Homo sapiens: one gene and its partners. The protein of the gene in region 2 interacts with the protein of the main gene of each other region in a pairwise test. Each region holds a gene or a part of one and is shown on either strand. Other genes may lie near its edges.

What was found.
Region 1: the proteins of FLNA (region 2) and CCDC141 interact in binary tests that used the Homo sapiens proteins (3 or more experiments, as listed by UniProt).
Region 3: the proteins of FLNA (region 2) and MAGEC3 interact in binary tests that used the Homo sapiens proteins (3 or more experiments, as listed by UniProt).
Region 4: the proteins of FLNA (region 2) and KCTD13 interact in binary tests that used the Homo sapiens proteins (3 or more experiments, as listed by UniProt).
Region 5: the proteins of FLNA (region 2) and ARHGAP24 interact in binary tests that used the Homo sapiens proteins (3 or more experiments, as listed by UniProt).
Region 6: the proteins of FLNA (region 2) and RFLNA interact in a two-hybrid assay, tested with the Homo sapiens proteins (2 studies listed by BioGRID).
Region 7: the proteins of FLNA (region 2) and FABP1 interact in binary tests that used the Homo sapiens proteins (3 or more experiments, as listed by UniProt).

What each region holds. Positions count from the first base shown.
Region 1 is NC_000002.12:178,829,244-178,834,198, forward strand, and holds the end of CCDC141 (coiled-coil domain-containing protein 141), read right to left. Parts: coding exon 4,930-4,955; 3' UTR 1,553-4,929; coding exon of another isoform or gene 1,515-1,552; 3' UTR 514-1,514; downstream 1-513. UniProt on the Homo sapiens protein: Plays a critical role in cortical radial and GnRH neurons migration during brain development. Regulates cortical radial migration by negatively controlling the activity of histone deacetylase 6 (HDAC6) and promotes centrosome maturation.
Region 2 is NC_000023.11:154,353,667-154,357,634, forward strand, and holds part of FLNA (filamin-A), read right to left. Parts: intron 3,958-3,968; coding exon 3,768-3,957; intron 3,609-3,767; coding exon 3,585-3,608; intron 1,407-3,584; coding exon 1,159-1,406; intron 1,046-1,158; coding exon 950-1,045; intron 818-949; coding exon 715-817; intron 626-714; coding exon 485-625; intron 378-484; coding exon 249-377; intron 62-248; coding exon 1-61. UniProt on the Homo sapiens protein: Promotes orthogonal branching of actin filaments and links actin filaments to membrane glycoproteins. Anchors various transmembrane proteins to the actin cytoskeleton and serves as a scaffold for a wide range of cytoplasmic signaling proteins.
Region 3 is NC_000023.11:141,843,914-141,848,868, reverse strand, and holds part of MAGEC3 (melanoma-associated antigen C3), read right to left. Parts: intron 1-4,955.
Region 4 is NC_000016.10:29,918,272-29,923,226, forward strand, and holds part of KCTD13 (BTB/POZ domain-containing adapter for CUL3-mediated RhoA degradation protein 1), read right to left. Parts: coding exon 4,919-4,955; coding exon of another isoform or gene 4,865-4,918; intron 3,691-4,864; coding exon of another isoform or gene 3,583-3,690; exon of another isoform or gene 1,260-3,582; intron 1-1,259. UniProt on the Homo sapiens protein: Substrate-specific adapter of a BCR (BTB-CUL3-RBX1) E3 ubiquitin-protein ligase complex required for synaptic transmission.
Region 5 is NC_000004.12:85,991,919-85,996,873, reverse strand, and holds part of ARHGAP24 (rho GTPase-activating protein 24), read right to left. Parts: intron 2,292-4,955; coding exon 1,217-2,291; intron 1-1,216. UniProt on the Homo sapiens protein: Rho GTPase-activating protein involved in cell polarity, cell morphology and cytoskeletal organization. Acts as a GTPase activator for the Rac-type GTPase by converting it to an inactive GDP-bound state.
Region 6 is NC_000012.12:124,313,749-124,317,419, reverse strand, and holds the end of RFLNA (refilin-A), read right to left. Parts: intron 3,229-3,671; coding exon 2,895-3,228; 3' UTR 1,396-2,894; downstream 1-1,395. Other genes in the region: ZNF664-RFLNA (refilin-A), read right to left, coding at 2,895-3,228. UniProt on the Homo sapiens protein: Involved in the regulation of the perinuclear actin network and nuclear shape through interaction with filamins. Plays an essential role in actin cytoskeleton formation in developing cartilaginous cells.
Region 7 is NC_000002.12:88,122,482-88,125,062, reverse strand, and holds the end of FABP1 (fatty acid-binding protein, liver), read left to right. Parts: intron 1-476; coding exon 477-569; intron 570-1,958; coding exon 1,959-2,009; 3' UTR 2,010-2,081; downstream 2,082-2,581.

The DNA of each region.
Region 1 (4,955 bases), on a different chromosome or scaffold from region 2:
CTTGCTCTTTAAGGAAGATAGGAAGTTAATTTTGTGGTACAAAAAGGAGGATCCAATGAATCCGATTTGCCATGTCCTGGGTTACACAAATGAAACTGCTGTTGAACAGAAGGAAGAGTGAGCAGGCCAAATGCTCAAACTCTCAACACAAAGGCTTGTTCACCCTGAGGAGGGTCATGCCTCCAACCTGCACTGATGCTCAGATGGTTCATGATGTTATACAAACTCTCACCATCAAAAGGAACAGTGCTGTGGAGATTCATGGAAAAAGGCCAAAATCACAGCTGTGTGCTTCCTGTTTTTGAGGTTGAATTCATGCACAACTGATAACATTCAAATCTCATCTCCTGTGATAAGCACAGAGAAAATGAATTGTTTTTGCTTTAAAAAGGACACTTTCATTTAAGTCAACGCAAATCTTTTAGCTTTCCAATGCAACTCAAGATTCCGCTTATTATAAATGGAAAACAGTCTGTCATGCCTTGGCATTTACATTGACACAATATCAGAGCATACTGGAAGGAGATATTTTATTTTGTTTCAACTAACTTATTTCATGGCTGCACTTAAAATGCTGTGCATACAACAGGAGTTTCAAAAGCTTCAGATGGTGATTTTTAGTAAGAAATGGTCATGAATAAAGACAAACATAAAGCAGAACAAAATAAGATATTCTTTCCTTTCTTCATTTGGAATTCAAATACTCTTAAGTTCTTGGATTTGGCTTTCTTTATATTTACAAGTTTGTATGAAATACTGGTTTCAAATAAGATCTGTTCACAGCCCAGACTACTGAGCCCCAGCTACAATTAAATATTGATCATTTACGTAGTGTTCTAAAGAAGTACATAAATTCTGGTTTTGACAGTTTGGATTTAGTCATAGAGAGTGGAGGCATCCAGTTCCTCATACCGGATGATGATTTATGCCTAAGTACATATGTTTTAAAATGTTGGAACACTTTAAAATGTTGGAACAATATTGATCCAGGAACAACAATCCTGGACCTTTCCTCTTTCCTCCTTACTATTATTTTAGTCCGTGGAGCCAGCATCTATTTTTAAATTCAAATTTTCAATCAGGGTCTAGCCCAGAGGGTCTGGAGGGTTCTCACACAAGTTTTGCAGATGAGGTGAGAGATTTTCATGAGTGCTTCATTGTTAGGGCCTGATTCGGATTGACTCCTGTCTATAAGAAGGGAGAATCATCTTTGTCTTTTTACATTTCCCCTCTCCTCCCTCTAAAAAGGGGAGAAAAACAAGCTAGGTTTATCTTTGTTTACCTTTGGCAACAATTCAATTCAAAAGAGTTTACTGAGTGTGACTGTGTCTTAGGTACTGGCAATACAATGACAACAGGGCTGTCATGAATCCTGCTGATAAGGTTCTTACAGCCTAGCCAGAGGAGACTGATGCTCAAACCTGCGATTCCTTTGTGTATATTCAGGGGCGTGGCTGGGCAGTGCAGGTGCTGACAGTGCACATGGCAGGACCATCTACTCTGGACTTGATGGGTCAGGAGGCTTCCCAGGGGAAGTTGTGTCTCAGCAGAACTGGAACATAAGCAAGAGTTAAGTCACATGAAGATAGGGTGGTGAAGATAGTAAGAGAGTTATAGGAAGAAAGGGCTGGAGAGAAGAGCATGATATGTTAAAACCCTGAAGTTAAATGTCACTTTACTAGGGGTTGGGGGTAATAGGAGGGGATCAAACCGAGGCCAGAGAGGGGAGGCCAGGTTGTAAAGGGTCTATGAACTACTTGAGGAAATTTAAATTTGAGCAAAGCAGTTAGAAGGGTCTTGTAGTCATCTATTTTAAGTATGTGTCTTGATTATGAGTGATAGAGGTTACCATTATTGATTAATATAGCTAAAAAATTTTCTGCATCTTGTTCAAATATTTTAAATATCATAGAATATTCAGAGATTCAAATGTACAGATTCCTACAGTAAATTTCTCTTGGAATTGAGTGTGAAAAACTACCACCAAATATTTATACATCCTTTTATTGGAAAATCAAAGCTGGAAAACTCAATGATTTTGCCTTATGAAAACTTAAAAACATTTTGTTTTGCAGTTCTTCAAAGTATCAAGTATTTATAATTTGTTTAAGAGTTTAGAAGTTTTAAAACGTTTTCTGGTGAAAATCTTGAGTTTAATTTTCACCAGAAAACCTGCTAGACAAATTCTAAAAGAGCTGTAACACATGTAATTTTTAAACTTTCTTTTCATTTTAGTTTTCTTGTTGAAAATGTTTTGATATTACTAACCATTCAGGATTTTCTCTAGAAGTAAATGGTTATAAATTATGTATATACCTTAAAATAGAAACAACACTTAAATTTCCTAGGTCTTACATTTTTAACCAGTAACTGCAATTGATACTTTCATAAGAATAATTATTTGCTCAAGACAGAAATCCCAGCAAAAAGGAAAATCACACTTAACTTTTTGAAATTAAAACATAACCAGAAGAATAACTGCGTAATTATTCTTTACTGCTGTGGGAGTCAATCAATAGCCCAGATGAATAGGTAGATGGATAGGTACACAGAAAGCTATCTGTACTATATCTTGAATATCAGCATAGTACTCTTCTGATCTTTGTGCTCCCCCACCCCCACCTTTCTCTTTCTCTCTCTCTCTAAAAATGGATTTTGCATGCTTTTTTCCATCATAACCATGGATGCATATGTATCTCATTCTGCTCCCCAAAGAGTTAACATGAACAAGCATGCAATAGAGAAAGCAAACCAGGAATTCCCATGCCCTAACAACCCCAACACACAAATTCAACCATGTTGACAAAATGGGAAGGGAGATCCTGCCAAATTAATAAGAAAGAGAAAGTGGGAAGAGAGACAGTTTGTTACCGGGTCTCACCTGCCTTCTTTGTTCATGAATAGGTTTTTACTCTTTAGCTTCAACGTGGGCAACAGCAGTTAGGCAAGATTCACACATTATTTGAAATTGGACAAAAAGGATACAAGAGGCCGGCTATGGTGGCTCATACCTGTAATCCTGGCACTTTGGGAGGCTGAGGCCCAGCCTGGCCAACATGGTGAAACCTGGTTTCTACTAAAAATGTAAATATTAGGTAGGCATGCCTGTAATCCTAGCTACTCAGGAGGCTGAAGCAGGAGAATTGCTTGAACCCGGAGGTGGAGGTTGCAGTGAGCCAAGATGGCACCACTGCACTGGGCAAGAGAGCAAGACTCTTTCTCAAAAAAAAAAAAAAAAAACAAAAAAAACAAAAAAAAGATAGTTAAGAGAAATTTCCTAGAATGCTGTGTATACAAGCTTTTAATATAGTTCTATCAAAATTTAGAAGGAAACTGAGATTTAATTTTTTAATTAAATTGGATATGCAGCCCAAGAAAGTATACGCCAACTTTTTACTTGACTACACATTTCACATCTTCAGATAACATTCAGTAACTTTTTAATAACAACTTGAATACATTACATTTAAATATTTTGATTATTTGTAGACAGTCTTCCAGCAACATAATTAATTTCTTCCCTTCATCAAAAATCTGTAATGAATTATTCTTTCAACTAAAGATTTTCCTCAGCATAATAAGACTACATTTAAAATCTAAGAAGCAAATGCTTCCCTACTTCAAGCTTATTTTTAAAAGGAAGCCAAAAAATGATCTTTTCTGAATAAAGTGTTTCAGAAAGGCATAGAATACTTCAATATTATAGTAATAATTATTGTAAAAGGATAGAATTCATCTCATACCATTCTATTACGTTTCCCCCTAGAACAAACAAAATGTATCCTCCTGAGTTTAATTTCAAGTCTTTGAAAAGAATGCAGTCTTCAGAAATTAGATAGGAATTTAAGCTCTAATTCATAAAACATCACTTTCCTCCATGGAACTAGTTGAAGATTACATATTAACAGCACTCCTTTAATTTAATATTCTAAAAAAACAGCATCTAAAAAAAAAGAAATAGTGAGCAGGAGGCCGGTCTGATGACAAATTACATTAAACAATATCATTATCCTTAGCCCTCAGTGTTTTCCATTTTCCAGATGTTTAAAAGACACAAAATGAAAACTCTCAATTGCCCAAGAGGTAGATGATGAACTCATTTTCCAGACAGGAAACTGAGGCAATGAGGCTTTGCCATAAAGTATAAAAATGGTCATCAGCAGAATCAAGATTAGAAGCAGAAACACCTGGTTACACATTGCTGCTCAAAACACATCAATAGAATGTCAGGAATAACGTTGGTTCTTTCTTGCAACCTGTGTTCCATCTTGCTGTATGACATGCAGAGCTGACAAAAGATGGAAACTCTATTTAAAGTTGATGGCACATCTATCCTCCAATGTCAAACCCGTGAGAGCAACATGAGGAATGATTATTTACAATGACATCATCAGACTCAGGAACGTAGTCTACGTTGAAATTACACAGAATGCATTTCGGTAACAAGATCAAGACATGGAAAGCAAAATTAAAGGACAGCTAATGCAAAAATACAACATCAATTCAATAGTTCTACTGATATTCCCTACAAAGGGATGTTTTAAAATACAATTAAAAATATATTATTGAACAACCATATTTGAAATTTAGCACATTTCTATGCCGATGTCAGCCTTCATCTGCACGCCCTTAAATTAGGAGGGAATAGGCATAGAATAATTTTGCTGCATATTATGTTGAAAACATCTGTTTCTAGAGTACAAAAATCTGTTCTTATCCACTACAGATAATTTACCAAGCTTCTCAAATATATTAAACGCTCCAGAAAATTTGATTATTTCACCTAGCAGTGGTATTAGCCAAACAAGTATGGTGATCAGACTGGAGATACACTTGGTGGGAGATGCTTTGCAGGAGGTGCAGGAAGATAAACGGCGGCACTTTTCTTTAGGCACATGAGAATGATGTCCATTGGTGCCAACACCACAGTTATTGTGTGAGGAGCCAGTACATTA
Region 2 (3,968 bases):
TGGTTGTCAGTGCAGCTGATTTCTGCTTTGGACGGGCCCTCAATGGCCAGAGACAGGCCCCCTGGAGAGAGCCGTGGGTGAGCATGGGAACTATGCTGGGGACACTCCAGTTGGCCTGCACTGAGGAGCTCCGATGGCCAGGGCAGCAGGGCAGGGAGCCCCATTCAGGAGTATCTCCTGAGTCCAGCCCTTACCCCGGTGAGGGCATCCCGGGCACAGAGCAGGTCAAGACCAGAGCTATTGCTCACCCTCTCCTGCATCCTTGGTGTTGACGGTGAAGGTGGCAGGCTTGTTCACTACTCCATGGGTGAGGCCAGGCCCATAGGCAGTGACATGGCCACAGTTGACGTAATCCACATAGAACTGCAAGGGGCTTCCTGAGGCAGGAAGAAGGGCCTTGTGGAATGGCAGCCTCGTGTGTCCCCCAGCCCCATCTCTCTGTGAGGTGGTGGCGGTGGAGTGGGCAGAGGCAGGGCAGGCCCACCTGGGATGTGCATGTTGTCATAGCGGATGTCCATCTCGTGCAGGCCAGCCTCGCTGGGTGCATACCGCACGGTCACGGTGCCGTCTTTGTTGTCAGTGATGGTGGGCTGCGCCACCTTGCCTGAGGGCATCCGAACCTCCCCTGTGGGGCAGTGGGGCTGAGGTCAGGGCAGCTCATTGGCACAGTCTGGCCTCCTTGGCTCCCGAGCTCCTTCCCAAGTCCCCACTCACCTGTGATCTCGCCCTTCTTGATGGTGAAGGGGATGACAAGGTCAAAGGGCCTCAGGCTGGTCACATCCAGCCCATTGACACCCACCAGGGGCCTCTCCGGGGCCTGCAGTGGAGACACAGGGCATGGGTGAGGGACAGTGGGAGGATCTGGGGTCCCTCCTCACACATGGTAAACTAGGGGCTCACAGAACACCCAGCTGGCTAGCCCCAGTGTCCCTAGCTGGCCAGGCCGTACCCAAGTCTGCTGGCCGCCCTGGGCGTAGGTGTACTGTGGGGCCAGCTGCTGAGACCGTAGAGGGGGCTGCACCGAGGGCTGGTCCCCAGCCAGAGCCTGCAGGGCAAAGCAGAGAGCTGCTGGAGAGTCTGTTGTCACAGAGGGGCCCCAGGGGAACAGGCCGGGACCTGCCAGACACCCCTGCTGACCTACCCCCCACCCCTCCTCACCGTCACTTGGAAGGGGCTGTTGGGCACGTGCTCGCCACCAAAGCGCACACAGATGACGTATTTGCCCGGCTGGGGGGCCGTGTAGAAGATGTCGAAAGTGCCGTCCTCATTCTCCACCACGTCCACATCCACCTCTGAGCCATCAGGCGTGCACACGGTGCACGTCACTTTGCCTTTGCCTGCCGCCTTAGTGTCCACAGTGATCACCGTCTCCTCCCCAATCTGAATGGTGGGGCCGATGCCAGCACCTGGTGGGGCAGGGTGGGTCCCCAAAGGGGGGCCAGCGTGTGAGCTCGGGTTCAGGTTGTTCCCGTCCGCCTGCCGCCCACACAGGCCTCTCATTGCCACCACCAAGCACAGCCAGGCCGCCAGGCCTCCTGCCCCGCCCTGCCCCTCCAAGCTGGGATGGCGAGTGGTTTCTCAGAAGGCAGGAAGGTTTCTCCTGACCACCTCAAGTGCCCATGTGGGAGAGGCCCGACAGTAGCACCCAGGTGCCTGGGAGGAAAAGGAAGGGCCCACTCCAGCCTAAGTGTTGACAGCCACTCCCTTGCCTACTCAGCCTCGTCCAGCACCATGGCCCACACTGCTGAACGCCAGCATCTGGCTGGGCACACGGCTGCCTGCGCCCTTCTGGCCTGGCCCCGGCCCCCATTGCTGTGTGTGGACGCGGTGAGGCGGAGTCCTGCTGCAGCGTGGGGGGATGTGACACTTGCCTCCCCACCCCCCAGGCCTGATGGTGAAACCGGAGTTTCCTGACAACTGAGAAGGCTCGCGGTGAAAAGCAGCCCGGTGCAGACAGGAGTGGGAGCGGGGAAGCGGGAGGCAGCGGGGTTAGCACCCGAGTAGCGCAGCGCAGCAGGCTTGGCAGAGCGGGGATAGCACCCAGGGAGACAGGGAACAGGAGGCCCAAGCTACAGCCACCACTGCTGGGTTGCGAGGGCAGAGCAGCTGAGCAGGCTCCAGGGCCCCAGAGTGCCCGAGGAAAGGGGAGAGACAGTGACGTTATGATCTGGGTCTCCGCCGTGGAGGCTTGGGGGGCTGTGGGCTGTGAGGCCTGGCAGTGAGAGTGCCCCCTGCAGCCTGGCCTCCTGCCAGGGAAGCAGCCAGGAGCACGAAACCTACTTGAAGGCCAAGCTCGAGGGGCCCTGCCACCAAGTCCCACTATCGGCCGAGGGCTCCTGCTGCACTAGGCTCCATGCTGGCCTGCCGCGGCCAGGCAGCTCTCCCAGGCTCCAGACCTGGCTGCCGGCTGCCCACGCTGCCCTGGGAGGCTTCACTCATGTGCACCCCATGCCATCTAGTTAGTGGCTTGGGCCCCAACCTCACAGGTACCCGACTGCCCCCACTTTCCCTGCCCGGCTCCCAGCCAACCGCAGGTCTCAGCCACTCCATCCTCAAAGTATGCCTCCTAATTTGGCTCTCACTGAAGCCCCGTGGCCGTCAAGCTTGCCAGAGAGCAACTTCAGCGCCCCCTTCCCCACCCCGGGCTCCCTGTCTCCATTCTGCAAACAGTAGCCAGGGAAACTGAGGTTACTGAGTCTTGCTCCCACCCTCAAAGCCCCCAAGGCCCTGCAATCAGTACTCCCCAGCCTCCCCCGCCCTGCGCACACACGCCTGTCACACACACATCGGATCCTACGGCCTGCTCTATAAAGCCATCTCGCTCCTGCCGCAAAACTCTAGCCACCCTCTCACCCTTTCCTTAGCCACCTCGCCCAAGTGCCAGGCCTGTAGCCTCTCATCAGCATCCCTGGGTGTCCCTGGCTGGGGCAGGTGACCCTCCATGCCTGTTGGGGAATGTCTGAATAACGTCACTGCTGGGGGATAGGGGAAGGGGGAAGGAGGGAGACGGGCCACAGAATGCACTTTGGGGCTCTGAGGCTGGGCCGGGCCCCGCCATGCTGGCCGCCCAAGCAGTCGACACTGGCGCTACTGCACTACCAGCCAGCCCCACCCGCTCATGCACCTCCCCCGGCCCGGGACGCAGAGGCCCCTGGAAGGTGGGGATGGGGGTCTGTGGATCTGGCCAGGGCTGGGGCTCCCATTGAGTTGGGGAGACCCCTTGTTCCCTCAGCCCACGCAGGAGCCCTTGTGCCTCCCTGGGTGCCAAGATCCCGAGACCCCAAAGTCCCCAGTGGGGTGCCTCTCAGGATGCACCTCACCCCAAAGCTCTCAGCTGCAACCCGAGTTCTCAGATGGGGAAATAAAGGCCCAGAGAGGGGAAGAGCTGGAGCGGTCATGCTCAGCTCCGGAAGCCTCCCTGGGCCCTCGCCCTCCAGCCCACGGCCTCATCTTCTGCACCCCACCCAACTCTGTCCCTGCCTAGAGCTGCAGCTGGAACTGTCCTGGGAATCGGCCCCAAGAGGAAAGGAAGCTGCCCCTCTGGGCAGGAGGGGCATTGGGAGTGGCCCCAGCAAGCAGCTTACCTAGCCCGTGACCTCCGATTGACACTGAGGTGAGAGGGCAGAGAGCAAGGAGAAAGGTCAGGTGAGTCACTCAAGGGGGCGGCCCCCACTCCCACACGCCGCCCCAAGCAGCGAGCCCTTGCACACAGGCACAACCCAAGCCCCGTGCCGAGCGCCGCAGCGGCCAACAGCGGGCGGGCTCACCTGTGACAGTGCACTTGCTGGCGTCCCCGGTGGGCACGGCACGCACGCGGTACGGGGAGAAGGGGATCTCGTCACCACCGTACTTGATGAGGATGGTGTAGCGACCTGTCACGTCTGGCACGTAGGCCACTGTATACGTGCCGTCATGGTTGTCTTGGATGTGTGTCTTCTTCGGCTTGCCTTCGGGATCCTGTGTGGCAG
Region 3 (4,955 bases), about 13 Mb from region 2:
AAATGGGGTATACATCACCTCAGGTATTTGTCCTTTCCTTAGTATTGCTTTGGCTATTCAGGCTCTTTTTGGATTCCATATGAATTTTAGAATAGTTTCTTCTACTTCTGTAAAGAATGATGTTGGCAGTTTGATAGGGATAACATTGAATCTATAAATCGCTTTGGGCAGTATGACCATCTTAACAATATTAATTCTTTCAATCCATAAACAAGTAATTTTTTTTCATTTATTTGTGTTGTCACTGATTTCTTTTCTCTATGCTTTGTAGTTCTCCTTGTAGAGATCTTTCACCTACTTGCTTAGATATATTTCTAGGTATTTCACTTTCGTTTGGCTATTTTAAATGAAACTGTGTTCTTCGTTTGACTCTCAGCCTGGATGTTATTTGTGTATAGAAATGCTACTAATTTTTGTACATTGATTTTGTATCCTGAAACTTTACTAAAGTCGTTTATTAGTTCTAGAAGCCTTTTGGTGGAGTCTTCAGGGTTTCCTATTTATAGAATCATATTGTCAGTGAAGATAGATAGGTTGACTTCTTATTTTTCTGTTTCTACATCTTTCATTTTTTTTTCTCCTTTCTGATTGTTCTGGCTAAGACTTTCGGTAATATGTTGAATAGGAGTTGTGAGAGTGGGTATCCTTGTCTTATTCCAGTTCTGAGAATAATAAGTGAACCATTCATTAAAATAAATATCTCTCTATATAGCTGCCTCTTTAGATACACATGTATGTGTATACATATGTATACATATAGATGCGTGTATATATATTTATACATACATACTACACACACATATGTATACATACACATACACACATGCATACCCTGTTGATGGTCCTGTTTCTCTGGATAATCCTGACTATGCAATATCCACTCTCCTAATTTCTTGTTCAGTCTAGGTACAAGGCTGTCAATTTTGTTTTCATTTTCAAAGAATCAACATTTAGCTGCATGGATTTTCTGTATTTACTTTGTTTTTTCTTTTATTAATTTCTGCTTTAATCTTTATATTTACTTTTTCTGTATGCTTTGGATTTAATTTGCTCTTCTTTTTCTATTTCTGAAGGTAGAAGTTGAGATTAATTTACTTAAGATCTTTCTTCTTTTCTAATATAAGCATCATAGCTATACATTTCCCTCTAAACACTGCTTTAGCCAGACCCCATAAATTCTGATATTTGGTTTTATTTTTATTCAGCTAAAGACATTCTTCTAATTATCTGTACGATTTATTTGTTAGCCTATGGGTTATTTGAAATGTGTAGTTTAATTTTTCAATTGTTTGTGTATTTCACAAATTTATTTCTTTGTTGATTTCTAATTGAACTTCATTGTTTTGGAGAACATACTTATCAATATTACACATACTTTCTTTTGGAATATTCAGTCTTCTCTGAAGCATTTGATATCTATAACTATGACTGGACTGTGGCAGTGATTAAGAAATCCATCCATAATGACCTATGAACATCTTCAGAAGGTGCTATGTTGGGATGGTTGGTTATTTCAGATTATGTGGTGTATCATGAATTGAATGAGGTAAATCTGCCCAATAAGTGCTCTATAAGGTAATGAAATTATGATGTGAATGAAATCTACAACTCTTTTGGTTGAATAACGTGAAAGAGGGTAACAAGTGCTTGTTCTCCTCTCATGCAACAGCCTCAGAAACCCAATGTGTCCTACAACACAGTTGGAAATCACTAGAGTACAGAATTCCCAACATACTGCCCTATTTCTAAATTCTATGATTCTAAAGTTCATCTAATACATAATATAGGTGAATGGGATTTTATTCAGATATTCTCATTCATGTGAAATTACCATCTATTTAGTGTATAGTAAATAATGCACTGGGGTAATTGCTTTTATTTTATTGTACTTAATTCTATAAGCCCAATGAAACAGGTACCATTATCATTATCTTATGAATGAGAAAAATGAGACTCAAGAATTTGTCCAGTGGAAGTAAACTACAGCTTCCCATAAAATGAGAGTAATATGACCTATTCCAGAAGAACTAAAGTTAGCAACAACAGTAGTTTATCATAATTTAACAATGGAGCTCATTAAATGACAACAACTGTCAAATTATATATAAAGTCAGTGCAAAAACTTGGATGCACATAGTTACATTCTTACTCTTCTAGGTAATGAAGATATTGTGTTGTTGAGATATTGTTGAACCAGAGTAGAATTAACATACTGTAAAAGTAAATGATGAGATATAATTAGTTTTGTTACCATCTTGGGGGGACTTGAGAAAGAGAAGGCACAATAAATAATTAAAATGAGTTTGTGAGTTAAGAGAGAATTACAAGCCTTCTGAAAACATAGGTAGCGTCTTTGTCTGTACTATTAAATATTTTCATCTCATTGTCCTGTTAGGATCCCTTAAGGAGGCAAGACTATTAGAAAAGGTGGGAGTCTCAGTACTCACAGTAAACTGCCAATCATAGAGATTTGTATATTGTAGCAACTCGCCTGTTGTTAAATCTCATCACCCACTCCCCCTCTTAGGCCAGCAAGTTTAGAGGTGTAATCAATTGTAATAGAAAGCAACTGTAGATTTCTGAATGCATAAGTACATTATCCTATCAGTTGGAAAAGGAGTGGAAAGTAACTGGAACACATTTATTTAAAAAAAAAAAAAAACACTGGTGAGGAAGCAACAAGAATTTAAAAACACATGGGAACTGGCTGTTGAGTAAGCAGTGCAGATCTGAATCTGAAACGGAATAAAGACCAAGAACCACTAAATTGGTGGAAATGAACTTACCTATTATGTGCTAGGAGCTGTCTGTCCTCTCCGTATCTTAGCATCTGGTATCACAACTAAAACATAATACATTTTCAATATATGATGTTAGACCCTGTTTTAGATGCTTAAAATTTATTATTTAACTTACTTTCACTATACCTCTATCACATATGTATTCATATGTATTATAATATCCACTTTACAAATGAGGGCACTTAAGTGCAGAAAAGATTCCTAGTCATACAGCTAATGAATGCAAGTGCCAGGATTTGGTCATAAACAGTTGCCCATAAATCCTTTTTCAACGAAACTATTCTACTTTACAGAGCTTTTTCTCCCCTATAAGAGCTTAATTAATACAACCACAACAAAATAAGTAACTCTTAAATAGTAACTAATTCTATTAGTTTCTCTAAAATAATACAACATACAACATAACAACTATAATAAAACATTAAATAAATGGGAGTCAGGTGTCTACTGGCAAATTTGTTAGCATTTAAAGGTTAGCTAGCTCATAGAAGTTGAATGTCAGTAGAGATATATTCACTTAATACATTTACACCTCAAGCATAACTTCTGTTTTGTCACCATATAAATCCCTTTGTTAAAAATACGACTGGAGCTGAAATGATGATATTTACGACTTTTATTCGGCAAAACTTAAAGCTTAATATTGGCATATAAGACTTTAAAGATAATTTATCATATATTTCTTACCAAAGCCTTATGAAAAGTTTTGCTGTTATGTGTGGAAATTTTTTTCTACCATCATAAAGACTATTCTCATTTATCACTATAAACAGAGTTGTACGCAATCAATATCTGTATGCAAGTTTTGCACTCCAAAGAAAATAAGCATTTTACCTCTCTTTTAATTTAGTTCTTTATTTGTATCTAAATGAAATTATAAGTACATTTGCAAAATGTCCTTGGCACTAACTGCAAAACTTGGGAAATTATTTTTGAGATTTCCTACAAATCATCACTTTACATTATTCATACCTAAATTAAACCAAGTACGAAAAAGTGCCTCAGACTACCTTTTTATATTACTCAAAATGCTGATGCAGAAGAACTAGCAAAGGAAATATCAATGAAGAAAATATTGTATCAGTAAACATATACTATATCCTAGAATGGCTGAAAACGTTAGCGCTTAAAAAAAAATTACCAATTACTTTTGAGAAATAAAATGTCTTGTGAGCTAATGAGAAAAAAAATGTTCAATTACACTAGAGGGTATTTCCAAAACTTTCCTAGAAGGCTGAATCATATGTTTGGTAATGTTGGCATTGGTTTTTATTACTTCTAAATAAAAATTTCTCGTTAATGCAAATACTATACAGATATTTTAAATTGGAAAGGAAAATAATCTGAAGAAATTATCTGGAATACTGCCTAATAAAAACAGAGATTAAATTATAAAAAATAAATTAAAAGATGTGGTGTATTGAGTGAGAAGGTCTCACATATATGTAACTAAAATCTCAATAGACTCTAGAAAATAGGAGTCAAGGAAATAGTCAAAGAGATAATTGATGTTTTTCCACAATTTTTGAAGACATTAAACTTCAAATACAGAAAGACCAACAAATTTTAAGTGAAATAAATGAAAACAAATGCACACCTAAACACATAACAGTGAAACAGCAGAATACCAAAGGCACACAGAAGATATTAAAAGAATTCAGAGGGAAAAGATAATTCACATATTGCAACTACACTGAGAGCTGACTTTTCAGCAAGGGAATGAGAAGGGATTAGGCCCACCAAGCTAAACTCATACGCCAAATTTAAATATTTTTCAAATGTGAGGGTGAAACAATGACATATTCAGACAATAGAAAGTTTGAAAATTTGCCACCAAGCAATGTAAGTGCCCACTGGAAGAATATTAATACATAGATTTTAGTGTATTCATAAAATGGAATGCTGTACATCAGTAAAACTAAGTGAACTATAATTGCACATATCCACAGGATTGAATTTCAAAAACATGATATCGGACGGAAAAGTGTCAGAATAACTTACACAGTATGACATGATACGTATAAGCTTCAAAATCAGGGACAACTGCAAAATATATTGTTGAGGGATATTAACATCATACACTCCAAAGAGAAGAGAAAGGGAATAAGTACTACAAAGTTCAACGTGGTGGCAATCCCTGGATAAGGGATGCGC
Region 4 (4,955 bases), on a different chromosome or scaffold from region 2:
ACAAGGAAATGTAACAATGATAGAGAAATCAAACCACCATCCCCTAGATCCAGGGGCCAATTATGAACGTCATTAATGACGAGTCATATTAACAATATTATGGGTTGCTTGATGTGGCCCAACGTGAAATACATACATAATATTACCTAAAATGTATTCTAAACAAAATGTTTAATATCAGTCATTTTATTTATTTTATTATTTATTCATTTATTTTGAGACAGAGTCTTGCTCTGTTGACCAGGCTGGAGTGCAGTGGTGCAACCTTGACTCACTGCAACCTCTGCCTCCCAGGTTCATATAATTCTTCTGCCTCAGCCTCCTGAGTAACTGGGACTACAGGCACCCACCACCACTCCCAGCTAATTTTTGTAATTTTTTATTTATTTATTTATTTATTTTTGAGATGGAGTCTCGCACTGTTGCCCAGGCTGGAGTGCAGTGGCACGATCTCGGCTCACTGCAACCTCTGCCTCCCCAGGTTCAAGCGATTCTCCTGCCTCAGCCTCCTGAGTAGCTGGGATTACAGATGCCCACCACCAGGCCTGGCTAATTTTTTTGTATTTTTAGTAGATACAGGGTTTCACCATGTTGGCCAGGCTGGTCTTGAACTCCTGACCTTGTGATCCACCTGCCTCAGCCTCCCAAAGTGCTGGGATTACAGGCATGAGCCACCGCACCTGGCATAATTTTTGTATTTTTAATAGAGATGGGGTTTCACCATGCTGACCAGGCTGGTCTCAAACTCCTGACCTCAAGTGATCCACCTGCCTTGGCCTCCCAAAGTGCTGGGATTATAGGCGTGAGCCACCGTGCCCACCCAATATCAGTCATTTAAAATCTACAGTCTGGTTTACAGGAAATTAAGGATAAGGCTGGGTAATAAACCAAACGATACCGGGAGTAAACAACCAGGCAAAGTTGGAAAGCGGGTCATTGTGCAGGACAACTGGCAGTCTCTTTAACAAGCCAGCATCGTGAGGAAAAAGGGACCCCTTGGATTGTAATAAAGTAATGCTTATGGTATTATTTGGCTTATGTAATAAAGTAATGCTTATGGTATTATTTGGCTTATGTAATAAAGTAATGCTTATGGTATTATTATGGTAACTGTATTAAGGCAGTTACCTATCAATGATAATCCTTACCTGAACCAGTAATTACATTCGTGCCATAGAATACCTATAACTCTTATCATCTCTTCAACATTATTACATGAAACTATTTGTAAAGTCATGCTTTCCATTGTTAACTTGCAGATAACCAGATGCAACGTGAAGATCTAGACTGGACCCTGGTTTGATGAACCAGCTGTAAAAACACATTTCTGGAACAACTGGAGAAACCGGAGTATGCCCTGGACTGGATATTAAATAAAAATTTATTGACATGTAAAGATGGCAATTATTAACAACAACAAAAAACAGATTATAAAACATTTCATACAACACGATTGTATTTTGGCAAGCAAACACACACACACACACATACTCTCACACAGGAAACGACCTGGAAGAATATTTGGTGCTTTTATTTTTTAGATTATTTGTGTTTCTGAAATTTCTACAATTAATAAATACTGCTTTAAAATAATCAATGGTTATTTGTAATTTTAAAAAATCAAGGATTTCCATTCAATGCTAGATGCCACAAGTGGGTGACATTCTAAGAAAAAATATTGGCGATATCTACATTGACTAGAAATTTTTATCTAGAACAGACTTTTTCAACTGAAGTTCCTCATCTGAATCTCAAAAACCAGCAAATATGGCCAGGCACGGTGGCTCACGCCTGAATCCCAGCACTTTGGGAGGCCAAGGCAGGTGGATCACTTGAGGTCAGGAGTTCGAGACCAGCCTGGCCAACATGGCGAAACTCCATCTCTACCAAAAATATGATAAAATTAGCCAGGCATTGTAGTGCACACATGTAGTCCCAGCTACCCGGAAAGCTGAGGCAGGAGAATCACTTGAACCCCAGAGAGGGAGGTTGCAGTGAGGTAAGATCGCGCCACTGCACTCCACCCTGGGCGACAGAGCAAGACTCCACCTCAAAAAAAGAAAAACAAAAACAAAAACAAAAAAACAGCAAATAATTTGAGTGTTTTCTGAACTTTGCTGAGAACAGTAGGTAAATAGTCCCATGCTACAGGCTTAGAGGTTAATTTGTTATGTATATAATCCATGCCCTAGGGAATGTATAAGACATACCCATATGCAGTAGGGCTTAATTATCCCTAGGAACTAAACTAAAATATGCAAGGATCTCCTGCTAAGCAACATGAAAAAGAAAAAAGCAGAAAATCTGGTAAAGAACATGAATAAGCAATTCACAGGAAGGGAAACAAAAAAACACTAGTGAGTATATGAAAAGATGCTGAACCTCATTAGTAATCAGAGGCATGCAAATGAAAATGAGATCACGCTACACTCATTGGATTGGCAAAATTAGAAAGCTGGATGATGCCATGTCTTGATGAGGACATGCAGAAATGTAATCTCTTATGCACTGCTCATTATGAGGATAAAGTATTATAACCATTCGGGAGAGCAATTAGATGATATTTACTAAAACGCCGTTTGCAGGTGTCCTGTTATCCAGCAATTCTACTCCCAGCTACAATGACAGGAGACTGGCACAGAATCAGAAGGGAGCATGTACCAGGATGCTCATGGTGACACGGTTTGTAGGGGCAGGAACTGGAAGGCAATCTAGGTCTCCAACCTCAGGGGAATGTATGAACAAAATATGGTGAATGAACACCGCAGATTTCTCTGCAGCTGTTAGAAGCAAAGAACTAGATGTACTTGGAGCAGCATGAATAGATCTTGAAAAAAAGTGCTGAATTAAAAAAACACAATGCAACAGAAACTGATTCACAGCTTCAATGCCATTTATGGACATTTAAAATGCACACATATGCAGAACAATGCTTTAGCTTTTCGAGCATATGTATCAAAACATTAAAATTGGATGGGTGCCCCTGGGAAAAAGGAAAGTAGGCAGGGGACTGGGAATGAAGGGAAAGAAATAAAACTAAAAGACAAAAGGTTTGCATAGACCAATATTGATGAAGTGCCACACACTGAGGAGTGTGCTGAGCTGCGTGAGGTGCAGAGGGAACCTGGAAAGGAGAGAGCAGGAGTATAGAAAAGTACAGCTCTTGGGAGGCTGAAGGTCAGATAGTCAGGTAGCCTGGGGTCAAATCTGAGCTCTGCTGCTTCCCAGCTCTTTCACCTTGGACACGTCTTCCAAGCTCCCTCGCGTTTCTTTTTACGTCAAACAAGGATACAAGATGTATACACAAGCAGATAGCAGAATTGCTCCTGACACACAGTGGGTACATGATGACATTAGTAAATTTAAAACTACAGGCCGGGTTTTAAAACTTTAGTTTTAACATTAGTAAATTTAAAACTACAGGCCGGTGGCTCACGCCTGTAATCCCAGCACTTTGGGGGGCCAAGGCGGATGGATCACGTGAGGTCAGGAGTTCGACACCAGCCTAACAAACATGGTGAAACCCCGTCTCTACTAAAAATACAAAAAAGTAGCAAAGCGTGGTAGCAGGCGCCTGTAATTCTAGCTACTTGGGAGGCTGAGGCAGGAGAATTGCTTGAACCTGGGAGGCAGAGGTTGCGGTGAGCCAAGATCACGCCATTGCACTCCAGCCTGGGCGACAGAGAGACTCTGTCTCAAAACAAAACAAAAATGCTACAGAGCAGGAATGCACTTCCAAGATCTAGTACAATGAATGTTTCTCAAATGCAAGTGGTAATTTATTAATGGGTCATGAAATAAGTAATGGGTCCCAAACAGCATTAAAAAGAAAGATTATCAGAGTACATTTCACTAAAAGTATCTTTTTATAGAACTGTTATTTCAGTTATATATAATGAGTACTAAAATGCATTTTTTCCCTATGGCAGGCAATCAAAAAGTTTGAAAAACATGGATATTGTCCAAAGGAGTTCTACACCTTTGGGCTTCAAGAACCAGTAAGTATTCCCTGAGACAAAAGTTGTTCAGGGAGGCAACCTTTTAATCTATAAAGGGCATTCAAAAAGAAACTTTTATAATCTTCTCTTACTATTGTAACATAAAAGAAAGGACATTTTTAACATTGTAAAAATAGAACAGAATAACAGGCTTTATGTAAAACTCACTACTTTGTACTTATTTTTCTCCCTTCCCTGTCTTTCGGAACCCGAGGACAGAATCCCAGAGGTAGGAATGGACTCACTGAAGGTCACTGAGTCAGCTGTGACAGAGGTGACACAGAACCCTTATGTCCTGGCTTCACTTTCCAAGCTCTGCTCCTCAGAACCCTAAGGGGTCCACAAAAGTGGAGCCTAGCAGGTGGGGTCTCTAGAATCCCCAACCCTGTTTTACTGGGAGTGGCCCTGCTTCTGTGAGATTTCATTTGAATAAAGAATTTCACTGTTTAAAAAAAAAAAAGAATTAGAAAGCTCCTGGGGGGCGGAAGCCATGGGAGAATGCTGCCTCCCAGGATAGGGCCAGATCGCAGAGGTTATTATATTTCAATTTAAATTTAGATGTTTTTCCCTAGTGACATGAGGGAGCTATTTAGGATTTCTAAGCAAGAGAGAGAATAGATCGGGGTTGTGCTGAAAGATAATTACTCAGGTGCGAGTGTAACAGCTGGACTGGCTGCATAGGAACAGTGGGAAGTAGAGAGCAGCTATTTAACCATTGCAAAGGTCCTGGCATGAGGCTGGGGTGGGGGTGCTGCCTGAGGCGGCAGGGATGCAGAAGATGGCACCTCAAATTCTCTGGGGTTATGGCCAGCCAAAGCCAGGCTCTCCAAGCCATACCCCATATCTCCTTTTTTCTGCTCTAATACCTGCTTGGGCAGCTCTCCCAGGAACATAGGCATGGGGACTCCGAAGGCCCTCACCTGCAGCGCCAGCTGGCAGTCCTCAATCAGGCCCTGC
Region 5 (4,955 bases), on a different chromosome or scaffold from region 2:
TCAAAATATAAGCTTCCCAGTGTGAAATGCTAATTTATCATCATGGATTGGCAGTAATTCAGAATTCCAATACATAGTGGTTCCAAAAACTACATTCAGAAAGAAGAGTAACCTTTTAAGATAATGACCCTATATTTTTCTTTAAATCTCCTGTCACTCTCCATTATATAGAAAAATTCAAACCACAATTCCACTCAGTGAAACTTACCAAAAAAATACTTTCCAAGGAAGTAATTTTTCAATCTCATTTATAAGTAGTATTTTTTAATATTTATTTTGCCATAGCTTCTGAAAGTACGTTATCTTTTTGTCTGATAATTGATGAATGGATAGGAAACATATTAAGGTAAATTAAAGCCAACTTAACAACCAACTGAGGATCCTAGCACACCATGGAGGAAGGGTTGTCCAAATCACACAGCCTGAAACTGGGACTGAGAACACTAGAGGAGCTACTCCTACTTTGATCATTTTATGAGAAGATGCACATTGATATAATTAGGTTTTAGCATAATTGCTTCTTTATAAATCATATTCTTTTTTCCTCATTTAGGCTACAGTCTTCCTTATTCATGTGAACATACTTCACGTCACCCCTCTTCTCAAAAACCTCCATGGATTTCTATCTCAGAGTAAAAGTCAAAGGCTGAAAATCAGCCTGTCAATCCCCTATGTCACCTGGCTCTTATGGCCTCTCTCAGCTCATCTGAATCCTCAGCGTCTGGAACAGAGCCTGGCAGATAGAAGGCACTCTCTCAACATTCAATGATTGAAAGAATAAAACATGGAGGTCTATTTACTTCTACTTTTTTTACCCTAGTTTCATCCTTTTCTTGTTAGTGAAAACTAACAGGCTCCTAATGCTCTGTCCATCTCCTCACAGCCCCTCTCCTTCCAGCCCTCTAATGCAAATCTATCTATTTAATAATAATCAAAGATGACATTATTGAGCCTATTCTGTACCAGGGAAATGTTCAATCACTTCTTATGTGCTTTTGAGGTAGATACTACTAGTATTTAAATTGTTTACATTAGGGAATCAAAGCTCACAGAGATGAAGCTAACTTGCACACAGTCACAAAGCTCATAAATGATGGAGCAAACTTGTGTTTCTTTGACTTTGGAGCCAGCATATGTCACCCTCAGTGTGATCCTGTCCCACAGTAGGAGGCTACTGAGCCCTCTCTGGTAGTTACGACCTCCAGATTTTCCTTACCTCTTTATCCTGGACTCATACTCTATCTTCTGTTTGGTCATTTCCTGTTTCAGGCTGGAAACTAAACTGTGCAGTGCACTGTGGTTGCTGCTGCTGTTGCCCACAAATGTCTCACTGTTGTCACTGCTACTGGTGGCACGACTACTTCGACCTCCCACACTCCTGTGGTCACTTTTGCTTTCATAGTCCCTGGGGTGGGAAAGGTCGTCCTGCGGGGGCCCATCCAAAACAGGGTCCTCAAAGTTCCCCCCAAAAAAGTCTTGCTCTGGGCAGGTGGTGGTAGAAGAGCGACAGGAGTTGGAGTTCTCAGGGAGGGAGATTTCACAGGAGGAAGTGGACCAGGTAGCACTGTCAATGCTCTGCTTGTCATCAAGGTTCATCATGGAGAACTGTTGATGGACATTATCATAGGTGGACAGTCTGTTGTGCTGGCCTAACTCTCCAGCTTGTTCTTTCTGCTTGTTATCCCTCAGGGTCACATAGCCATTTGGCAGCCAGCTCATGTTTCGAACATTTGTGGGGTTCCCGAGTGTGTCGCTGTTCAAAATGCCCATGCGCACCGTTCCATTCTGTACACTGTGCGTGCCCATTTTGGTACCAGATACCTTCAGTGAAGAGCTCCTTCTGGCCTGTAGGCTCCCATTGGGGGTGGTTTGGGTTTTCTCAAGACCTTCTGCATTACTGCTGCTGAAGGACCCATTGGTAACTATCCCACTACCCTTATTAAAGGCTGGGTTCTTTTTGACCATGAGAGGGGGGCTTCTAGACACATCTAGCTTGTGAACACTGTTCTTTGGGCTGTTGGTTTTGCTGCCTGATAGAGCTGTGGGGGATCCATTGTTCATGCTGCTTCTCTGGGGTGACTCAGACTTGTCCCAGGAGCACTGCCTACTAGGGCTGTCCTTGGTGTTATTGTTCTCCTTGTTCTGTAACTGCCCCATGGTGGCTTTCTTCTGAATTTCATTGTTGTTGCTCACTCCATCTTGGGGCTTGCTTTGTAGTTCTGCATCTTTGGGAAAGAGGCAATCATGTTTGCTAATCATCACTGACATCAACTGCTGGACCACCACAGTGCCTAGAATTGCATAGAACATAAAGTAGCATGAGTGAGACAGTTTTTATTTATTTCTATTTCAATGTGACTCTTAAAGAAACACATTCAAGAGAACATTCATTATTATTATCAGTACCAAACCATATTCTTAACTATGATAATAGCAATAGAAGCTAAAACATCTTGAGCATTTACTTTGTGCCATGAACTGTGTCAAGCACTTTGCTTTTGTAATTTAATTGAATTTTGAAATAAATCTATACATACATACTGTTATTATCACTGTATTATAAAGGTTAAGTAACTTGATTAAGGTTACACGTTAAGGACCAGACCCAGGGCTTGATCCCAGGGTTCATTAAAAACCTGGGCTCTTAATCATAATACAATGTTTATTAAAAATTTGACATTTAATTCTGAGAAATATTTCTTAGGAGGAGGTCACTGTGACCTCTCATCTAATAATTGCCTCAAACTATCAAGATATTTTAGTGGCATCTGTAAATGGAGCCCAATACAATCAGGTGGATGCATGGTTTCTCTAATATATCAAGATAATGAAAATCCATAAGACTTTTGTTCACCATTCAAAAACTTCAGGGCATTTTAAGCGACATCAGCCAGAATGGTGTAGTGAAGACCTCCAAAAATCCTCTTCACCATATAAGCAACTAGCAAAAATCTCCAGAATCAACTATTTTGGAATTCTGTAAATTAACTAATGGCTTGATGCAATCTGGAGAGTGTTTACTTAAGAAAAATGGCTGAATCTCAGTAAGAGCAGCAAGGTCTGTGGCGTTTTAACTTGCTCTAATCTTCTCCTCCTCTCCTAGAAAACCAACAGCCCAAAATCACAAAGAAAACCAGCTATCTGGCAGCCACTGGAATGGGCAGAGCAGGGTTGGATTTTATGTAGTTTCTATATAAAATACTTAAAACTTGAGATTTGGTGAAGAAAATGATGCAAAAAGGCTTTTGACAATGCATAATTTCATTACAACAGCAGCTAATTGAGAGGCTGTCAGGGAGTAGAAACCTGACCTGAGGCAAGGCCACTCTTTAGCTTCCGGTGACACCTGGGAAATATAATTCAAAATCAGATTTTGAAGAGGAAAAAACATATTATATTCATTTATATTCTACACACTTTTCTTGTGATGATTCAAAACTTATAATATTTTCGACTGCATATCAGCAATAAGCAAGATCTACTGCTACATCAATGTTATTCAAATTTTAAAGTTCATAAAAATTACCTGGAGATCCTGTTAAAAGGAAGATTGAAATTCAGTAGGCATTGGGTGGGACATGAGATTTTGCATTATAAACCAGCTTCCAGATAACATCAGCAATAATAGAATAGTAGCACTGGCATCACCTGGAAGCTGAAAATTTTAGCACCCAATGCAGAGCTTCTGAATCAGAATCCCCAGGTGATTCCTGGGTGCATTACACTTTGAGAAACACTGTAGTAGATGCAAATGTTTCCCTTATATCTTCCAAATTAAATTTCTTGAAAGTCCGAAAGAGAGGATTCATTTTTTTTTTCAGATGAGAAAATTGAGGGTTAGAGAAGTTAAACTATTTGCTCAGGGCACAGAGACGATGTGATCAAGGTGAAATGCAATATTTAGTCTTATTCCAAATTATGCATTTGTCCTACTATATTTCAGCTGCTGCAATTTAAAACCGTAGCAGTAATAAGTAAACTTGGGATAGTTTTAAAGATAAAGTTAGATAAAGATAAATATCTATTGAATTACCATCAATTATTACAGAATTGTGAAAAAAGACAATGTAATAATTGATTGTATTATATAGCCTTCTTTTCTCTTTTAGGAATCTCCGAATTTGTCATCATATTTTCCATGCATGTTAGCAGTGAATCTGATAAAAAGAATTTTAGAGCAGTTAGAATAACTGTCAAACTTGTGTACTGTGTTTGAAGACATTGTGTATTCAATGCTATTTTACTATTTGCCCACACGCAGACACACTTTCGGAGGTTTGCAGTTTCCATTATATATGACTGTCTAGTATTTTGGGAAAATGGACCTTTTTCCTATCATTGGAATGTTAACATTTGAAGTATCACTGCTTCCCGTCATAGCTATGAACTGTGTGGGAGCATGTAATTAATTGAAGAGCAACATCCTTAAGGTCTCCATGATGAGTTTGTGAACAGCCATGTCAAAGTGTACTTGTCACAATTATGGAGTATGAGTGTCAGGTCCCTAGAGATTTAAACTCTCTTGTATCTTGGGAAGCTTTGATTCCATCTAGTCTCTGGGACAATAAATGGCCATAGCCCCTTGTAAAGAGACTTTCTTAGAATTTTTATAGTTGTTTAGGACAGACTAGCTCGGCAGTAATGATGATGTGTGTGCCACTGTACACACTATCAGTTTTTCCTTTTGATTCCCTGTCATTTTCTTCTTAGAATGCCAATGAGGAACATGAAGCCCAGATAATGAGGTCAGACTGGTTATAATCACCAGCCCATTCTGAAGAGTCCAAGCAGATTCTGGAGTTCCACTGTGCTACACGATCCAGCAATTCTTCCCTGAACCATATAATTTTATACAGGTTGACTCTAAATATCACATAATAGGCACTTTTCATCATAAGCATTGGCTAAAAATTTGATTTTTCTTTAAAAAAAACCTAGGGACTTTAAATATAATA
Region 6 (3,671 bases), on a different chromosome or scaffold from region 2:
CAGGCCACGCAGAGCTGACGATTTCAACGGACTCCACCTGAGCTCCAGCGCAAGACCGATCCCAGGGGAACCTCCATGTTTGTTGAATTCATTGGCACTATAATTGCAAGTGTCGGAAAGCCTTATCCATTTTCCCTTCGAGATGGTGAGAGATCAAGGTTGTGATTGAAAATCAGGCTTGTGGAGTTGAATTTGCATGGATTAAGGAAGGTGCAAAGAATGCCACCCCCAGCAGGCATCTGTAGGGAATCCCATGAGTAAAGCAGGGCTCGGGTCTTGAGGCGTGCTTCTGTCCGTGTAGACCAGTGGAGGCCTCAAGATTCGTCCTCGAGTTGATGTGAACCTGTGTTGGACTCAGCCTCTCTGGCTTCCATCCCCCCTTCCCTGTTAGGGGCCATCCTCCATCAAAGCAGGCAGCCGGTGGTTTAGAGTGTCCCGGATCTTGGGTTCAGATCCTGTCTCTGCCTCCTACCAGCTGCATCCTACCAGTGTGGGCAAATGACTTAACCTCTCTGTGCCTTACTTTCTCCTCTGTGAAGTGGAGATGCGGTTGCATCCATGTCAGCGGGTAGGGATGGCATGCAAGTTTTCATATGCAATGTTTCCTACAGAGCCTGAAATCCAATGAGTGCTCTGAATTAGCACGCATAGCATTCCCACTAGTGTTAGCTTAACCACTGCCAGACCAGGGTGTGGACCTCAAGAGGCTACCACCAGTCCTGACCATGGCACTCTTGTGACACATCCCCTCGGAAGACCTGTCCCCAGCAGCCTCTGGGGACACTCCCTTATCCCCTGCCCCCACCAACTCCAGAGCCTGGGAGCAAATTCTAGTCTGATTTTCCAGTCTGACTCACTGTCCCCTGGCTGCCGAGTGTTCCCTTTAACACACTCACTATCTCCATGGAGCCCCATGGGCCTCTCCAAGGGCGAGATGGAGAGAAACAGATTGTAAGGTGCGTCCCAGCCGCCTGCTCCGCAGTGGCAGCCAGGGCCCTTCTCCAGGGATGCTGTGGGTTGAGGGGCTTGCCAGAGCTGACGACCAGGATATGGAGCTGCAGATATGCACGCCATCCAAAGTGCAGATGCCCGGGCCCATCCAAGGAGCTGCCCCCCAGATCTGAGTCCCCAGGTAGGTCCCAGGCCTCTGCATTTATTAATTAGCTCTTGGGTGGAGCTGGCGTGTGGAGGTGGTGTACGCTTAGGCTGTCTACAGGGGTGGGGGCTGAGTCCTTCTTTGTTCCTTTGATCAGGGCCAAGGCCAGCTCCTTAGGGCACAAGCTCCGAGTGGAAAAAAAGTGATGGCCACACAGGAAAAGGGGCCTGGAGACCCATCTTCCCCTTCCCCAACCCCAGCGGGAGCTGAAGGTCTCACAGACAGAAAAGGAAGTCCCGTTGGGTTTGCACAGTTTATTAAGATAATCAATCAATTTCTTAAGTTATTCCTTTGTTAACCAGACAGCATCTCTGGAGAGAAAATGCACTCTCTGTGTAGATACATAAAAATACATCAGTCATTTTGCCCCTCCTGGATGTGAACGGAATCTCCCCTCCTCACCTCCACAGAGGGAGCTCAAGCCCCAGGGAACCTTCCCCTCCCCTTTTATGCATTACCAGGGGAGTGGCAGGGGCAGCCCCCAACTGTGGAGTGCATTCAGGTCTGAGGGGGGAGGAAGGCTCAGAGGGGCATCTCCCCAGCACCCTGCCACAGTGCTGGCTTCTGGGGTGTTTGTTCAGCGGCCTGCTGGGCTGCCCCAGGCTGGGGGCTCCCCCAGCTCCCCGTGCATCCTGGCTTGTTCCACGGAGCCCTGAGCCAAGTCTTTGTCTGGCTCATGTTCCTCTCACAACATCCCACAGGCAGGGGTGAGCCTGCCGCAGGAAGGAGTAAGGTGCTGTCATTGCGGAATCGATTGCGCACAGGAATGCAGGCTGAGGGCGGCAGCCCGGTCCCCTCAGTGTCTCTTTAAACCGACAGCTGAGCTCCGACTCCCTCGAGTTCAGACCCGGCCTCACACAGGTGGCAGCATTTCCGAGAGCTTCACCGCCTCCACTGGGCACTTGGTTTTGACATCAAGGGTTCTCGTCCTGGAGGTGGTGCGTGGATGGGTGTTAGCTGGGGACGCCCTGCAGGTGAGGCTCCAGAGGCTGAGCACCAACCTTTCCATTTCGACGGGCAGTGCCCCAAATCTTTGACACTGGAGGGCACGGGACACTGGCAAGGCCATGGCTCAAAGTATTTCTAGGCCTTCCCCGCCCCCAGTATCACCACCTCCAGCGCTGGCATCAGCATCCGGCCTTTGCCCAACCTCCTGGCTCAACATCCGCCAGAGGTGGCTCAGCCACAGCTCCAGACCTCTCGGTGCAACCTGCATGTGTGCGAAAAGGCTGTTTTGGAAATACCCCAGGCCAGCAGCAGGGAAGAGAGGTACCCCTCTTCCCTCACACATGGCCTTGGCCACCAGCCTAGGACACATGGGGTGGCAGGGCTCTGGGGGAGTGGCAGCCGTCCCCACCGGCTGAGGCTGGGATGCCTCTGTCCTCACACTGCTCGGGGCTGTTCTCTGCTTCAAGGGCACTCCATGGACCCATTCTTTTCCCCTGACCCTGGGGGTGGCCACCACCTAACAGTGCATGCCCCTACCGCCTTGCCAGCTTAAGTGCTAAAAAAATAGATGCTTTTACTGAGTCCTTGACACCAAAACAAGGAGACCACCACCTAGCCTGTAGGTCAGGGCAGGCAGCGGGGAGCCGCCTCCTTCCACACGGGTCCTTGGTCTGGCAGCCTCCCTTCCCGCCTCCTGCCCGAGTGCCAGGCCGAGCTCATCGTGTCCATCCTCCCGGCTTCTCCCCAGGGCTCCCGGCTCCTCCAGCACCCCGGGCCGGCCCCAGCCCCGTCAGAGCGTGGCAGGGCCCAGGAGGCTGGGGGCAGGGTCCTGGCAAAGCTGCAGCTGCACGCTGGCGGTGAACCAGCGGCTGGGCCGGCCCAGGCTGCAGTGCAGGGTGGTCCGGAAAGTGCTCCTGGCATGCTTGGGGAAGATGATGGTGGTGCTGCGGAAGCGCAGGGCGCGCGGGCGTGGCTCCAGGGTCAGCTGGCTGCGGTAGTTGCGCCACGTGCAGTTGGGTGCTGCCACGATGGTCTCGCTGTAGGCCGTGACGGTGGGTACGGGCGCATAGAAGACCTTGTCCTGGAAATGCTTCTCCGAGGCGTACTTGACCTCAGAGTTGCAGCTGGAAAGGGCAGGAGGGAAGCGGAGTGAACCCAGGATTGGGGGCAGCCCGATTCCCTGCCCTCAGCATGGACACGAAAGGGCCCTGGGCAGATGCTCTGAAGCCTAACGGGTGTGGGCTGCTCTGAAATGTCAAGGTCAAGAAGGTCAAAGAAGGACTGAGGGACTGTCTTGGCTTCACAGAGACTAAAGAGGCGAGACAGCTAAACGCAATGAAGGACCCTGACTGGATCCTGAACTGGGGAGAAAAGTAAGCCAGGAAAGGACCTTATCGGGACGATGGGTGAAACTGAGCCGTGTCGTGTGGGTTAGGTGCTGGCGTCACCGTGTGCACTTCCCTGACGTTGACAACTATGCTGCTGTCATGGAAGAGGATGTCCCTGTTCTTAAGAGACACACTGAAGTATCTGGGGGCTAAAGGGCAGGATGTCACCAATCTCCTCT
Region 7 (2,581 bases), on a different chromosome or scaffold from region 2:
TGAAGTGAAAGGACTGTTTGAGCCTAGGAGTTCAAGACCAGCCTGGGCAACATAGCAAGACCTCATCTCAATTAAAAAAAAAAAAAAAAGAAGAATACATACCAAAGCAAAATATGTATTCTCTACTGGTCAATATTTGAATTTTGCCACTACCTCCCTCCATTAGCTTGGGAGAATTGAGATTTTACTTGATTTGATTTTAGCATTTGTATTTGGGGCCACTTAGGTGTTCCATGCTCATTTCTAGATCACATGCCATGAATTAAAGTTCTGACAAAAGAAGTCGTGACATTTTATTTAGTTCTTAAATGCACCTCACTTCTATTTGGAGCCAGAGAACTAGAGGCTTGGGATCATAGGAACCAGAGCATTTTGGTTGTTATGAGCTGAGACCTGTGCAAAGGAAGCAACTTCATTAGCAAGGCTCTTGCCCCCCACCACCCCTTCCTCACAGGTCACCTCTCTGTTCCCTGCAGACAGTGGTTCAGTTGGAAGGTGACAATAAACTGGTGACAACTTTCAAAAACATCAAGTCTGTGACCGAACTCAACGGCGACATAATCACCAATGTAAGTTGGTGGTGCTCTGAGCGTGTGGCTCCCAGTGCTTGAGGGGAGAGGGGAGGTGAAGCATGGGGAGCGGCTCACATACCCTAATGCCACCCCTCCACCCTCCAACCCCCAAACTTCTTTCCTGTGGTCAGTATCTGCCAGCACTTACTGAGGATCCATCATGTCCCAGGCAGTTTACACACATTATCACTAATCCTTTCTGCTCAGCGCAACCAACCAGCCACAGAGGCCTCCACCTGCCCTGCATGCCCAGGGTGCTTCATAAATGCCTTTGCCCATTTAGCGTTTATAAAGAGAATCCCATTCATGGTCATATTATGGCAGCTTACAAGCCTGGCACAGTCCAGTTATGCAGTCAGCCTTGGTGCCTGGCTGCCAGCCACATCCTGTACCCTATTTGGGGGTGAATGGTGCAGTGTTTCTCCTGCAGGTATGTCCCCCTGACTCTTCTTTGCCCCCAGAATATGCTTTAGGGAGTCACAGACAACAGAACACTGCCTCAGGGCGCTGTCATCACTCTATTCAAATGGAAAAATTCTTAAACTAGAGAGAGTGTGAGCATCAACCACCCAATGTGCAGTTTCCACCTCCGCCCCAGCACATTCCCAGGAGAGCAGGGGAGCAGGAGATGAGCTATCCTGCAGTAAGTCCTGGCCAACGCCCTTTGATAGGTTCCATCTCACCTAATCCTCCTGTCTCCTTCGAGGGAGGCTGGATGAGGGATTCAATAGACAGGTTGACCTGTCCAAGTCATCAGCTAATAAATGTTAAATCCAGGGCTCAAACCCATCAAGCAGCAACTATTGCATTGCTGCTGAAACTGAGGGGCTCCTTTTCACCCTGATGACATGGTATGTCATTCCAGCAGTCTTATTCAAGAGAACTGGCAGGGGTGGAGGAAACATCCTTAAAAACTCAAAAGCTGATGCATCCACTGTTTTTATATGCTTCACAGCTATAGGAGGACAATTATGCACTACCCACTGCCTTCCAGGCTGTGTGCCTAGTTGTGTCCATGTACATGTATCCTTGGTGCTCAACATGTATTTGGTGCATAGTAGGTACTCAATGAAATTTTGAGAAATTAGATTGGGCTGGTTTGGATGGTCTTGCTATAACAGTCATTGATGTAGAAAAGAATTCAGTCAAAGGCAGGAGGACTTTCCAGGTGAGGAGGAGAAGTGACAAAGACTTGGCATAGGATTTTGGAAAACATTGCCAACCTTTCCTCCGGTCCTACAGGAAACCAGACGAATTTTTGAATTGTTTCATATGCCAACATATTTGGTGCTGTTTTTTAAGCTTAATTTTGTTTTTTATGCTTAATTTTGTTTTTTACAATACAACATCAGATGAACACTTCATAATTTCTTTTCTGGCTTTCAGACCATGACATTGGGTGACATTGTCTTCAAGAGAATCAGCAAGAGAATTTAAACAAGTCTGCATTTCATATTATTTTAGTGTGTAAAATTAATGTAATAAAGTGAACTTTGTTTTAAAAAAAAATGTCTTCTCAATGCCTTTTCATTGATGGTGCTATTGCTCACCATATTCTCGTAAATATACTTTCGTAAATGTTGATAATCCACATGATCCACACTACCAGGTCAAATCCGAAGAGTAATTCCCTGAACACAAAACCCATGCTGCACACCCAGGTGTTCTGCCAGGAAAGCCAGGTGTGGCTAGATCTGCAGGAAGGCCCTGGAATGCCCTTTCCCAGTCAGGCACACGGGCAAGGAGCTGGAGCCAGAGGATGTGCAGTGGGCTGGCCTTGAGGGTGCTCTCTGTGGGGACAGGGAGCAGGAAGACTGGGCAGAAAAGGAGAGCTATACCCACAAGCACAGCCACAGTACCAGCCCACCAGCAGACAGGTGCAGAAAGGTCGACACTGACCCGCCCAATAAACTTTTCCTCCTGTGGGAGGCTGAGCAAAGGGCTTAGTGAGAGGCGCCAGAAGTGGACAGAGGAGGCTCAGTGGAAGTTCCCTCCATGCTATGGGCAGG